2 linked regions of the Homo sapiens genome follow. The protein of the gene in region 1 interacts with the protein of each later gene in a pairwise test. Each region holds a gene or a part of one and is shown on either strand. Other genes may lie near its edges.

Region 1 (7,109 bases):
AATTCTCTGCAAACTTTCACCTGACAAAAATTCCCACCCTTAGTCCCCCAATTTTCCACAAAAATGTTGGGACAGGCAGGAATTTGTATGGCACAGGCTCAAAGCTGAGAGGTAAGAATGGCTAGCTCCTCAGATATGCTGTCTTGGACAGTAACACATCCAGTAAGCAAGCCAAAAGCACTTTTGACTTTGAGTGCTACCAGCAAACTGCGAGCCAGGGACTTGCCAAGAGATACTCAGGCCTCCTCCACTTTGCAGGAGCCATTTCCACCCCTGGGGGAGACACCAGGTTTCATTCCTCCCTGGGTCCTCACCCAGGAACAGGGCTGACCCCTGGTAATCAAAGATTCACCCCTGACAAAGGGCTCACTTCACTAGAAAGCAATGTTTTTCCCTGTGTTTTCTATAGCAGACTGGGGGGCCAAGCATCACCTGACTCCATTTATTCGCTTTAGCTTATATAGAAAGCCTCATTCTGCTTTGTCAGCCAAAATATTTATATCACTTTTTTGTCGACTCAATACCATCCTCACCTCAGCCTTCCTCCTTTCCTTTTTAAGAAAGGAGTTGTCGCCAACATGTTTCTCCAGTTCTTTGCTGTTCATGAAGCACTTTCTAGTCCATTAACTCATACGATGCTTTCAAAAAGCCTGGAAGGGTTTAAGGATGGCCTGTCCTCCCACTAAACAGATGAACAAGTAGAGGCTGTGTCGGGGTCCCAGACCCCAAGGCCTTCCAGGGCTAGGCAGGCCACATACATGATTGAAACAGGATGAGGCTGGGGACAGATGCAAACAGGAAAGAATCTGTGAAAGACTCACAAACTCCAAACTTTCTGAACCCTGGGCTGGCAAAAAGATAAAATAACATACAAGAGAAGGGACCCACTCATCTTGTGGCCCTTAGTCTGTGACTCAGTTTACACAACTTACCCAGCATAGCACTAATAATTCGTACTAGTTATAAAAAGTAACGTGTATTTAAAAAGTAACATGTATGTCAAGAGTTTACAAAGCATTTTCAAACTTGTTATCTTATGTCATTCCTGTGAAGAATCATTACCAGCCCATTTCTCAGATGCAGAAATTAAGATACGGAAGGACTAAAGAACTTGTCTGTGGACTTGAAAGTGTGTAAGCAGCAAACCTGTCCCAAACCCAGGTCATCATCCAGGAACCCCAGGGCCTGCCTTGCCCCACTGCCACGTCACTTACACTGCTGAGAGACACCATCCAATCCAGCTGCCTAGCCACAGGCGTCTCCCCTTTGAAACCTGATCACTCCAGGATCAGGCAGAGAAGCAGGTCATCCAGCCCTGCTTTGATGACAACCCCAAGGGTATCTAATTATAACAGGGAAGGGAGGAGTCAGGATTCTCTCGCTATTTCTCAAGACCAAATTAATTTTAATTCCTTTTGATACAGTGTATACACACAGGGCAGGAAAAGCACTGGTTGAGGAGTGAAGAAATCTGAGGCTTTTAGTCCCACTTCCGCTTGTTCACTGAGGTCTTGGGTAAGTCACTCCACCTTCTTCCCAAGGCCTCAGTTTCTCTGTCTCTCTCTCTCTCTCTCTCTCTCTCTCTCTCTCTCTCTGTGTGTTTGTGTCTCGATAAGGAAGGAAAAACTGGCTTCATGTCCCATGGGGTGCGTGTGTGTGTGTGTCGATAAGGAAGGACAAACTGGCTTCATGTCCCATCTAAGCCCAACTGATGGGTAGCATTATATAATACTAAGGACTCTGAGGCCGCTGGCCATACTCAATGGAAAGGACTACCATGGTCAATTAGTGATGTCTGCCACAGGCTAGAGGATGGGGAATGGCAGCATGTATGCTACTTATTTACCATCCTTGGACTAGATGATGCACAAATAACATGCTGCAAGTGAAAAGAACTTTGCCCTTTACAAAACTTTTTTCTTACATCTCTCACAACTTTCACAAGAACCCTATGCATCATCATCTTCAATCATCATCATCAATATATTATCATCTCACCTTTACAGGTAAGGAAAATACGGTGCAAGGAAATGAAGTACTTTGGCAAACACCACAAAATGATTAACTGGTGGAGCAGAGAGGGGAGCCGTGCCTTGGCTCTCCGACTATGCTCTGCTCATTCTACCCTTGGAAATGTCAAACTGGTGCTCCGCTGTTGTCGGGCCAGCTCATGCATGTGGCTGTACTGAAGAGACCCCCCTCCCCCATTTACAGGACTTCACCTCCCTCCCACGGGCTACTTGCCCCTTTTAGAGAGGCCACAGCAAAATTACAAAACCTACACACAGACATGGCAGGAAAGTAGGACTAAGTCAGAGTTCCAGATGTTTCTTCCCAAGGTGAAGTCCTGCCTTCACTGTACAGGGCGGGGGGGGGGGGGGGGGGGGCCAAGCCCAGAGAAAAGTGAGGTAAACAGAGCATGGAGCCCCCACAGGTCATAGTCCTCCCCACCAGGAGGACAACAACACTCAATCCCAAGATGCTTTCAACTGATAGATGCACCATCGATTTTATAACAGCTTTTGGAGAAGAAATAAGAGGGAGAAAAAGTTCACTAGAAGAACAAATCTACTGTAAGGGGCATCCTGATTTCAGAAATATGGAAACGTGGGAATATGAACACTGAGGATCGATGTCTACCTTAACTTAGGATTCTATGCTTGCTTGCTGAAATTGGCCACAAAGTGTTAAAAATGACAGCATTTTATAAAACGTGCTGAAAAAAACTAAGCCAAGAAACAGAAGGTTCTGTTTTCTCCCATAAATTTTCCTTGAATCTTTGACATCTGCAAACCAAAATTCAACCAAAAATGGGGTCACATCACACATTTAGGTGCTTCAAGTTGAAGGAGCCCGTGTGCCTGGATATTCTGCAAACAGGCCCCTGGTGTTCAGTTCCAGGACACCTGGCTAAGAAGACCAGGCATAAATACAGGGCACTGCTATGCCCCATTCACCATACCTGCAAATCAGGCATCTGGGGGTCCCCCATCCACTTTAAAGAAATACTTTATACAAAAGGAGTGAGGAGGGCAGGGGTGAAAGTCATCAGACGAACATTTTAAAAATCCCCCAAGACATGTAAAGGAGCATTTCCCCAACTAAGGATCCCTGTTGGACTTATTATTCCAGGGGAGCCATGGCTTCAGAGCCAGCTGTAAGAAAATGTGCCTCGGGCTCCCTAATAAAACATTGGCTTTGACCAAATGGCCAAGCCCAAATTGGTCATCCACTCTTCACTAGACCCAAAGCCCACTGATCTGAGCTATTTCCAAAAATCAAATGAAGTCATCAAATATTTATGGAGCTGCTGCTCTGCGCCAGACCCTAAAATGAATAACCGGTGATCTCTACCCTCACAGATGTTACAAGTTGGCTGGAGAAGCAGAAATGCAAACAACCAACTCTGACCTGTGGGTCCACATTGTTTGGGAGGTACCATGGGGGCAGAGGGAGAGGAAGCCTACCTGGGGAAATTTGTTGGGGGAGCTCTACAGAAGAAGAAGTGCAGCTGATCTCGAGGAGGGTCTGGTTTCTCACGAAGCAGATATGAATGAGGGAAGGGGCACCAGAGGCAAGGGCCCCAGCATGAGCAGAAGCTCAAAGACATACAGGTCCACCCGCGATTGAGATGTATCCCTTTTAAAGCCTTGCCACAGGCTCAGAAACAAATCCAGAAACATTCCAAGGAGCTAGAGCAGCCCCGGAATGAAAGCATCCAGAATGCTTTAACAAGAAAGTCTCATGGATGGCAGGCTGTTTTAAAGCAACAGCCAAGAGTGTACATTCTCACTTGTCGCCTAACTTTGCCTGCTAACGATAAGCCACCAGGTTTCCAGGACTACCCCAAGTGTTGTCAGTGGGACTTAATCTCCCCAAATGGAGAATCCCTGGCCACTGGGTTGAGTCAACTCACATGCGTCGACCACCTACTCAGGCCCTCAGACCGGCTGAGAGTCTCCACATGTGACCCCTTCATTTAATCCTAAAACAACCCTGCAAGGCTGGGATCATTAACCCTCTTTTCCCAGATGTAGAAGCTGTGGTTCCAGAACCAGAGTGACTTTCCCGAAGTCACACAAAGCTAACCACACCATGAGGCTGGATTTCAAACTCTGGTCTGGCAGACCTCAAACCCAGCTTTCCATTTTCCCAATTGGGGTGGATTCGGAAAATCTCTATGCATCTGACCTAAGGCCTGGCCTGGGGGGATTTCCTGCTGATGCCATGTTTTTGGCTCAGAAATAGATTTCATTGCCAGGCCATCTTTTACCTCTGATCTCCTTCCTCTCCTCAGACCCCAGCCCTGGTCCTGGCCACCTGCTGCCTTTTTGCAACTTCATCCTTCTCTCTGGCAACACTTTATTTAAAATGCACTTCAAAAAGCAACAGCCTCCCGGACTCACACTCCTTGACTTCAACAGCTCACAGGCTGCAACACATCATCCCGGAGTTACTAGCCATCATTTGTCATTTTTAACTACAGCACAGTGGCCTAACCCTGGCAGAAGTCTGCGTTGGGACAAATAAAAGGGAAATGTGGGCTACTCTAGCCAGGAGAGCTATATGGATGGAACTCATCATCACTACAGGCTGAAATGCCTCAGAGCATGTGAGATTCTGATAGGAAGTCTCACCAACAAAACCAAGAGGTCTGAAAGGTGTTGCTACCCTTCTGGGGCCAGCCAGTGATGACGACAACTGGTCCAAACCTGAGCTGTCCAATATAGTAGCCACCAGCCACATGTGGCTGCTGAACAGGTGAAATGTGGCTGGTCAGAATTGAGATGTACTGTAGGAGTAAAATACATTAGATTTCAAAGACTCAATAGCACCCCCGCAAAAGACTGTAACTTGTCACATTAATAATTTTCATATGGATGGCTTGATGAAAGGATAGTATTATGGATATACTGAGTTAAATATGTTAAAATCAATGGCACCCGTTTCTTTTACTTTCCTTAATACACTGTGAGAAAATTAAAAATTATATATGTGGCTCGCAACGGGGGCTTGAATTATATTTCTATTAGCGCTGACCTGACACATTTAAAAGATGAGGAGACTAAGACAGAAATTCTGGGATTTTTAAGGAAGTGCACACACACAAAAATACAGACTGTGTTTTTGTCTGATTAAATTAAATATAGCACAAACACAGACTCTCTAACTCCAGAAAAATTTCTCTGGCAATTTAAACTAAAAGTGGGGAACAAAAGACAAGGACTCCACACACTTTAGATCTCCTCTCCAGCAAGAAGACCTTGCAAAGACGCTGCCTTCAAACTTGTATCTGCCTTTCCATATGTCCTTCCAGACTCATCCAAGGCCAACAAGCTGGGGTATGTGCCTGGGCTGCCCATGTGGCTGAGCTTTCTTCATATGTGGCCCTTGAAGTGGGCTCAACCAGGGCTCAAAATATGTGGCACAGGACACCTAACCCACAGGGTTCACCTAAAAGTTAATTGAGATAATAAATGCAAAAATAAAGTATAAGCAATAAAGTGCAGTATACCTGCAGCACATCATGGCGGTTCAGCTAGTCCAGTACCTTTCAAACTCTTTTGGCCGTGACCCACAGGAGGAAATCTATTTCAAATCACACACATACATCCACAAATATAAATACAAGTTTCATGAGAGGATACTCACCTGTACCCTGTGGTATGCCTCTGCTATTTTTTGTTCCCCTATATTCTAGTCTATTCTTGTTTTTAAAAAATTCTGATTGTGATTCACTAAATTGACTTCACAGGCCACTAATGGCCCATGATTCAAGGTCTCGCCTGGGAATGGTAACTAAGAGGTACACTCTCCACTCTGATTTACAATGCTGTTTGGCCACTGCACCCCTCTCTCTAGAATATGGGAGTCGGGATATGGCCTCAGAATCCTTCTCAACACAGTGATCCAGGCAGCCATAACCAATTCCTTGGAGTTACAATCAGAAATGAAACCTATTTATTATTATCCTTGATCTGATCCCAAGTGTTCATTTTATAAATGCAAAAATTGAGGCTCTGAAGGAAAAAGTGATTTGTCCAAGGTCACACAGCAAGACCTTGTGGGGGCTAGGGCTCCTGAAAAGAGCCACTTCATTTTACATCACCAGAAAGAAGGTACAACTGACCCAAAACATCACAAGAACATGGAAAAAATTCAAAATTTCCTCATGACCATGAGAAGTCGGCTTATATACATCAGTCATATATGGCAAGGAAGTTCTTATCACCCACCAAGGAGAAGACGTAAGGATTCTGAGGTCAGAGGAAGCAGCATGCCAAGAGCTGAGTCAAAAGTGAGAAAAATATTGTATCTGACACTGGAGGAGTTTTAAAACCCAGTTTCTCAAGTGAAACAAGCCATTGGCTGTTTATTTTCTAGGACGAGGGAGAGGTCAGCCTTATACTGACCAGCCATCTTTGTTGCTTTCGTTCTGCAAAAGCAAGAACCCTTGTTCAAGTTCACCTCTGTGCAGAGCTGGAAGTATAAGCAAACCTCTTTTCCTAGCTTGCTCCAAAGTCAAACTATAAAGCAGGCCCTTGAAATTTCAAACCTTGTTAGAAAAAATTAAAAAAAAAAAAAAACCTCCTTAGGCAGAAAAGCAAAACATTAAGTAATAAGAGTCTCCACTGTGAAACTGAATATAAACGATCTTTCGCCAAAATAATTCAGCCCATCATCAAATTACCACCCCCAAGTCCAATTTGCCAGATATTTTGCCCAATAATCTACGAGAATGTGGTGAACAGACAGGAGCTAATAAAAATTAGCTCACATGTCCATTTCTGGTCACACGTCCACCTAAAATAGGAGGTGAGAGAGCCAAGGCCAAGGTCAGATCTCAATCCAGAGAGAGACACCAATAGAAACAAAAGAAAACTGGCCCCGCCCCCAATAGAACCATCATGCACCTCTACTTCCTTTACAACAAACATGATCAGAATAACCAATTTAAAAAAAAAAAAAAAACAGAAAAAAAAAAAAAACAGTTCTACAAAACCAGAAATGATTTTCAACTTCTAGCCATAGACAACAGAACAAAATTTCAGCAGAATGGAATGAAGGAAGCTGAATTGTGTGTCAGGAGATCCAGGCCACACAAAGGG
Region 2 (6,678 bases), about 15 Mb from region 1:
GTCTCTACTAAAAATACACATTAGCCAGGTGTGGTGGCGGGCACCTGTAATCCCAGCTACTTGGGAGGCTGAGGAAGGAGAATCGCTTGAACCCAGGAGGCGGAGGTTGCAGTGAGTGGAGATCGTGCCACTGCACTCCAGCCTGGGTGACAGAGCAAGACCCCGTCTCAAAGAAAATAAAATTAAATTAAAAATAAGGAAAAGATGTTGAATTTTGTCAAATGCTTTTTCCACATATAATGGATGGTCTAAGCTTTTTTAAATCTGAAAAATAACAGGCTATGTAATCATGTATGCAGAACCTCCTTAGCCAGTACTCACTCCCTCCTCCCCCAGCTGCAGACTGCTGAGGCTGAACTGGAAGAATCCAACAGGCTCTTCCCAGAAGGATTTCCTGGACCTTTTCTTAGAAGGGCTACTCTAAGAGACTCTGACTCCATCCCTGTTCATTTTTCCCTGTTCTGAGGTCTCCAAAGTTTCAGCTCATCACAGCACCAATGCCCATTGCAAAGAACACATGATTTATTCAAGACAACTCGTCATCAACAGCACTGACTCAAGGAACAAAACAGATGAAAAAACTAAAGCAAACGTTCTGACCCTCTGGAGTGAGACCCGCTGAATTCATACAGCTCAATCTGTAAGTGTCCAAGATCCAGGGGGCAGGTTCTCAAGCAGGAAGCCTCAGGCACTCTGGCTCTGTGGGGACCTCCCTTGGGCATCTGCTTGAGAATCTGGGGAAGGGACATTATCAGGGCAGGTCCTTTCTGCAGGCGGTGTCCTGCTGGGAGCTCAGCCTAACCAAGGCCTGGTCCCTGTGCTCTTGACCTTCATCTCAAGGTCAAGGAGAGGGCACTTGACCCAACTCTGCCAGCGAGGCAAAGTAATGGTGATTCAAGTAGTGTGGTTCCAGGAGGGAAGGTAGGGGGCAGACAAGAGTGAGTGCACTAAAGAGTCCTGGGCAGTGTCTGCTGGGTCCCAGGCAGTGGCCCAAGCTTATGAAGGGGTTGGAGAAGGGGCTGAACCACCAGCTGACAAGTCCTGGAGAGAGGGTGGCCCAGGTGAGCAGGAAGCATCATGCCTCTGCCTCATCCTGGAGGTCCTGGAGTCAGCCCAGTTCTCTTCCCATCTTTACACTCAATTCCAGTACAGAACTCAGAGCCCGCTCAGCCAGGACCTGCTCGAAAACCAGGCAGTTCCTAGAAGCATGGGGAGAAGAGGCTGACTTTGATCTTGGAAAATGAAGAGGATCTTGTCTCCAACTCCTTTCTCCCTTCCTATACCCATGCCTCATCCCCAGAGCACTTGCCAATGTGCAATACATAGCCAGGAGTCTGAATAAATAGTCAAAGTCTCCCAAATACTGTGCTCTGGGAGAGGAGACAGGCAGGTGCGGAAATCCAGGCGGCATCAAAGGAAAAGCCTGGTAGAAGAGCCACCTGGGGAAGCCTTTCCTGGCCCAAAGCCGGGCTTGGAAGGGCAGCGAGAAGTCCTGCCCACCAGACTCGGAAAGCTTTGGGGGCAGGAGGGCTGCTGGGGCCTGACTCCTGCCAGCCAGTCTGGAGGACGAGGGTCCTCACTATGGCACCCGGCTTCCGGACGCAAACCTTGTACAAGGAGGGAGGTGACTTGGTGAGAACTGGGAGTGGCCAGCTGCCCCTGCTCAGGGTACACCTGCTCCAGCCCTGGGAACAGCTCAGGCAGGGGTCAGAGAAGGCCCTGCACCTCCCTCAGCCCGCAGCGGGTGGAGGGGTACACAGAGGCACAGACATGGCCCTCCTGGAACTGGCAGGACCCAGGGCCTTTAAGCTCAGCTACCCCTGGCCCCAGAGAGGCTTCCTCGGGCCCCACTTGCCCTTTGTGGGACTCACTCAACCCAACCCTGGGTTGGGACCTGGAAGCCGAGGGAATGACAACTCTTCTGAAGCAATGGGTTCCGACCCTGGGCTCAGAATCAAGGTCCTTTTCTTTTCGGACAGGAGGGCCTCTGGGGGAACCTCCAGAAAAACCAGCTCCCCCTCTTCCTTCTCCCTCCCTGGGCAGAAAGCAGGGGCAGGAGGCTCAAAGCTTCATCCTTACTCAGCAGCATTTGGTTTCCAAGATTTCTGTGTAGGGAACGGGTTCAGAACCCTCTAAGTGAGGCACGGAGGACTCCCTCCCAGTTGGGAGGACCTAGGAGCCAGGGCTGGGGGATGGGAACAGGAGGCAAAGGCCAAGCTTGACCTCCAGGGGCCTTGCTGAGCCAGTCTCCTCATCTGTCTCCCAGGTTCAGGGGAGCAGAGGCAAGCGGGGAGAGGAGGTGGCTCAGGATAAGGCACCCCAACAGAGAAGGGCAGGGAGAGTAATGGAGAGAGGAATCATGAAGCAAGACACAGTCCCACTCTGGGAAGGAGGTGGAAGGAGACAGGCAGAGAGGTAGAGACAGAGAAGGAGGGGCTGGGAGACCTGGAGGCCTGAGAGACCCTCACTCCCTAACACACACACACACACACACACACACACACACACACACACACACACACGGAGAAGATGCCTGGGGACTTGGGCCCACATTCACACCGACCGACTACAGACATCTGTGGGTGAGACAGACGGCAGGACTCAGCTTTCAGTGTCGCCTTCCCTGTGGAGCAGCCGAAGTGCCCCGCTCAGAAGCGGTTTCTGGCCCATTGGCCAAGCACCTCCCCTGAGTGGAGCCCAGGAGAAGACCAGAAGCAGGAACTGAGGCTGGGGCGGCAGAGCCGAGGCAGGGAGGGGCCCCTGCCAGCCTCCCAGTGCCAGAAACGGCCCTGGCCCAGGAAGGACAACTTCCCGAGCTCCAGCCCTCCTCAGTATCCTGGGCAAAGAGGGCAGAGTGCAGGGCAGGTGGGGAGCTGGGCGTGGCGGCAGAAGGAGCACGGCACAGTGTGTCCCCAGTGGGCATGGCCTGGGTCTCGGGCCGATCCTGTGGCTTCCCCTCAGGCTGGGTTCCTACAGGTTTCTATGTGTCCCGGGAGCCAGGGCACAGGGTCGGGAGGCTTCTCTCCGGAACATGGGCCTCTTGCCGCCGGGCTACTTTGAGTCTTGGAGCTCCTTGGCTTTCTGCAGGATCTGGCAGACATCTGTGATGGGGTAGTCCTGGGCACAGGAAAAGGCCAACAGTTGCCTCTGAAGCCACTTCACCCCTGCCACACCCACACCCTCCCTGCTGGGACCCGTTGCCATGCTGGATCCTGGGCCTCAGGGGCAGGAGCACAGAACACCAGGCATCCCACACTCCCCAACCCCCAGACCCCTGCATGCAGCTGACGCTACACCATGCAGCACCAACTCAACGATCCAAACACAACCACTCCCAGGCTCTTGCGGCCCTTTCCTCAGGACCAGACCGTGCTGCCTCAGCTCTCCCACTACTGCCACTGAACCCGAGCTCCCTCGTGTGGAGCCAGTAGGACTGGGCCAGTGTCTGAGCATCAGCGCGAAGTCCCAACAGCCCTGTGAGTGGCCACTGTGATTCTGCACTTTTTCCAGATCTGGTCCATGAAGTTAGGGAAAAGCAACTCTAGGCTGGGCTTGGTGGCTCACACCTGTAATCTCAGCACTTTGGGAGGCTGAGGTGGGCGGATCACCTGAGGTCAGGAGTTCGAGACCAGCCTGACCAAGATGGTGAAACCCTGTCTCTACTAAAGGTACAAAAATTAGCCAGACGTGGTGGCACACACCTGTAATCCCAGCTACTCGGGAGGCTAAGGCAGGAGAATCACTTGAACCTGGGAGGTGGAGGTTGCAGTGAACCGAGATTGCACCACTGCACTCCAGCCTGGACAACAGAGCGAGACTCTGTCTCAAAAAAAAAAAAACAACAACAAAGCAACACTAAGGCCACGTGCTGGTGAAGAAGCTGAGACCCAGAGATGCTGTAACTTGGCTTGGGTCACATGATGAGCACAGCAGAGCAAAACTGTGGACCTAAAGCTGTAGGCCCTTGAGCCCATGTTCTTTTTTTCTGAGACAGAGTCTTGCTCTGTCCCCCAGGCTGGAGTGCAGTGATGCGATCTTGGCTCACTGCAACCTCCACCTCCCAAGTTAAAGTGATTCTCCTACCTCAGCCTCCCAAGCAGCTGGGAATTACAGGTGCATGCCACCAAGCCCGGCTAATTTTTGTATTTTTAGTAGAGACGGGGTTTCGCCATGTTGGCCAGGCTGGTCTTGAACTCCAGACCTCAGGTGGTCCACCCACCCCAGCCTCCCAAAGTGCTGGGATTATAGGCATGAGCCACCGCGCCCGGTGAGCCCATGTTCTTAATCACTACACCCCACCCTCCTTCCCCGGGCCTGAGCATGGCCACCAGCAAGCACGGCCATGTTCTGGGCACCTGCTGTGTCCTAGGTGTGAACACCTACGTAGAGTACACGGTTTGAAGGCCAAGTCACTTGCTCAAGGCCACCCAACATTCCAGGTCAGTGGCAGAACCAGGATTCAAACCCAGATCCAAACCAGATCTGCTCAGGGGTCTGGACTTTAATCCCTACTACACTCCGCTGCCCCTGCCCAGCCTGTCGCAGCAGCTGGCGTGGGCAGGTGCCTGGCGAGTGCCAGCCTCATGGCAGTGGCTGAGCCTGCCCCCAACTCCCATTACCTGCAGCAGCCGCATATTCACAGTGAAGTCCCCTTCCAGCAACTGCTCCCGGATCAGCCTATGAAAAGCAGCAGCAAAAGCGCTGGGACCTGGGATGCTCTGAGTGCAGGCCCTGCCCACTCCTCCCTCCCTACCCACCTCAAGTTTGGTTTGTCGCCCTCCCAAGGACTCCAGAATCCCACTCCAGCCATGAAAGAGCAGCCCTGCCCACCCTTCGGGGCGGAGGGTCCTCCTGTCTGGCTTCTCCAAGGACTGCCCAGGTGAGCTGATGACAGCTCATGCCCGCACTCACATGAGCATGGCGCAGCAGACGAGGAGGAGGAAGTCAAAGCGGTTGTCATCGGCGAAGAGGGAGTCCCAGATGCGGATGACGTCAGGCAGCAAGAACTCCTGGGACAGCAGCAGTGTCAGCCAGCGGAAGGCAAAGAACTGAGGCTTGATGTTCTGCTCTTGCTGGGGAGACAGCGTGGGGGGTGGGGGGCATGACTCTGTGTTGGCTGCCGGCCATGGAGCACCACGCAGTGGGTCAGAAGTGAATTCAGAACAGCAGGGCCCAGCATGCCAGGTGTGAGCACCAGGGCTGGCACCAGGCTGCCGGACAGCCTTGCCTGGTAAAGGGGCGGAGCCTGTTTGCTGCCAGCCAACATCCTCAGATCTTCCTATTTTTTAAAGAGAAGCTGGAAACCCAAACCTTTATATAATAAGCTCTCCAGATTTATAAATGATGGCTCAAACTCTTTTCACACACTTTGCAGATGATAGCCTTGGGTTTGTGGATGTGCTGAGTGACCATCACAGGGCACTTACTAAAAGCCTGGGCTATGCTTAGAATATTAAATATGTCCTCTCACTCATTTAATCCACAGAACAATTCCACAGGCAATTATTCCCAGTAGAGACAAGCCTTCTGGTCAGCCACAGTGAATATTAACTGAAAAAGCATGCTACAAAACAGCAAAAGCATACTTCCTTTTTTTTTTAGAGATGAGGTCTCGCTATATTGCCTAGGCTGAAGTGCAGTGGCACAATCATGGATGGCTCACTGCAGCCTTGACCTCGAGGGCTCCTCTCTCAGCCTCCCGAGTAGCTGAGACTACAGGCCTGTGCCACCATGCCTGGCTAATTTGTTTTTAAATTTTTTGTAGAGACAAAGCTTCACTATGTTGCTCAACCTCTGGGCTCAAGCGATCCTCCCGCCTCAGTCTCCCAAAGTGCTAGGATTACAACTGTGAGCCATCACACTCAACCCATATTTGTTTAAAAAGATATCATTATTCCTGGCCAGCCAGGCACAGTGGCTCATGCCTGTAATCCCAGCACTTTGGGAGAGGGAGGTAGGCGGATCACTTGAGGTCAGGAGTTCGAGACCAGCCTGGCCAACACAGCGAAATCCCATCTCTACTAAAAATACAAAAACTAGCCAGGCGTGGTAACGCACGCCTGTAATCCCAGCTACTGGGGAGGCTGAGGCATGAGAATTGCTTGAACCTGGGAGGCGGAGGTTGCAGTGAGCTGAGATTGCACCACTGCACTCCAACCTGGCCTCTGAGAGAGAGAGTCCTTCTCAAAAAAAAAAAAAAAAAAAAAAAAACAGAAAAAAAAGGGCTGGGCACGGTGGCTCATGCCTGTAATCCCAGCACTTTGGGAGGCCGAGGCGGGTGGATTACGAGGTCAGGAGATCATCAAGACCATCCTGGCTAACACAGTGAAACTCCATCTCTACTAAAAATACAAAAAATTAGCCGGGCACAGTGGCGGGTGCCTGTAGTCCCAGCTGCTTGGGAGGCTGAGGCAGGAGAATGGCATGAACCTGGGAGGTGGAGCTTGCAGTGAGCCGAGATTGTGCCACTGCACTCCAGTCTGGGCGACAGAGCGAGACTCCATCTCAAAAAAAAAAAAAAAATGAAGTTAACACTTACCTCAGAAGACTACTAACAGCTTAACCAATTTAGTTCATAGTAAATGCCCTGCAGTATGCCTGGCACACAATGGGCACCATTCTCAACTTTCCCCTTCCCTCCCAGCTGGGCTCCACCATCAGCTGCCTCAGCACATGGGT

The links.
Region 2: the proteins of ZNF618 (region 1) and TBC1D13 interact in binary tests that used the Homo sapiens proteins (3 or more experiments, as listed by UniProt).

Annotation. Positions count from the first base shown.
Region 1 is NC_000009.12:113,879,261-113,886,369, reverse strand, and holds part of ZNF618 (zinc finger protein 618), read right to left. Parts: intron 1-7,109. UniProt on the Homo sapiens protein: Regulates UHRF2 function as a specific 5-hydroxymethylcytosine (5hmC) reader by regulating its chromatin localization.
Region 2 is NC_000009.12:128,804,253-128,810,930, reverse strand, and holds the end of TBC1D13 (TBC1 domain family member 13), read right to left. Parts: intron 5,073-6,678; coding exon 4,912-5,072; intron 4,678-4,911; coding exon 4,620-4,677; intron 3,118-4,619; coding exon 3,052-3,117; 3' UTR 501-3,051; downstream 1-500. UniProt on the Homo sapiens protein: Acts as a GTPase-activating protein for RAB35. Together with RAB35 may be involved in regulation of insulin-induced glucose transporter SLC2A4/GLUT4 translocation to the plasma membrane in adipocytes.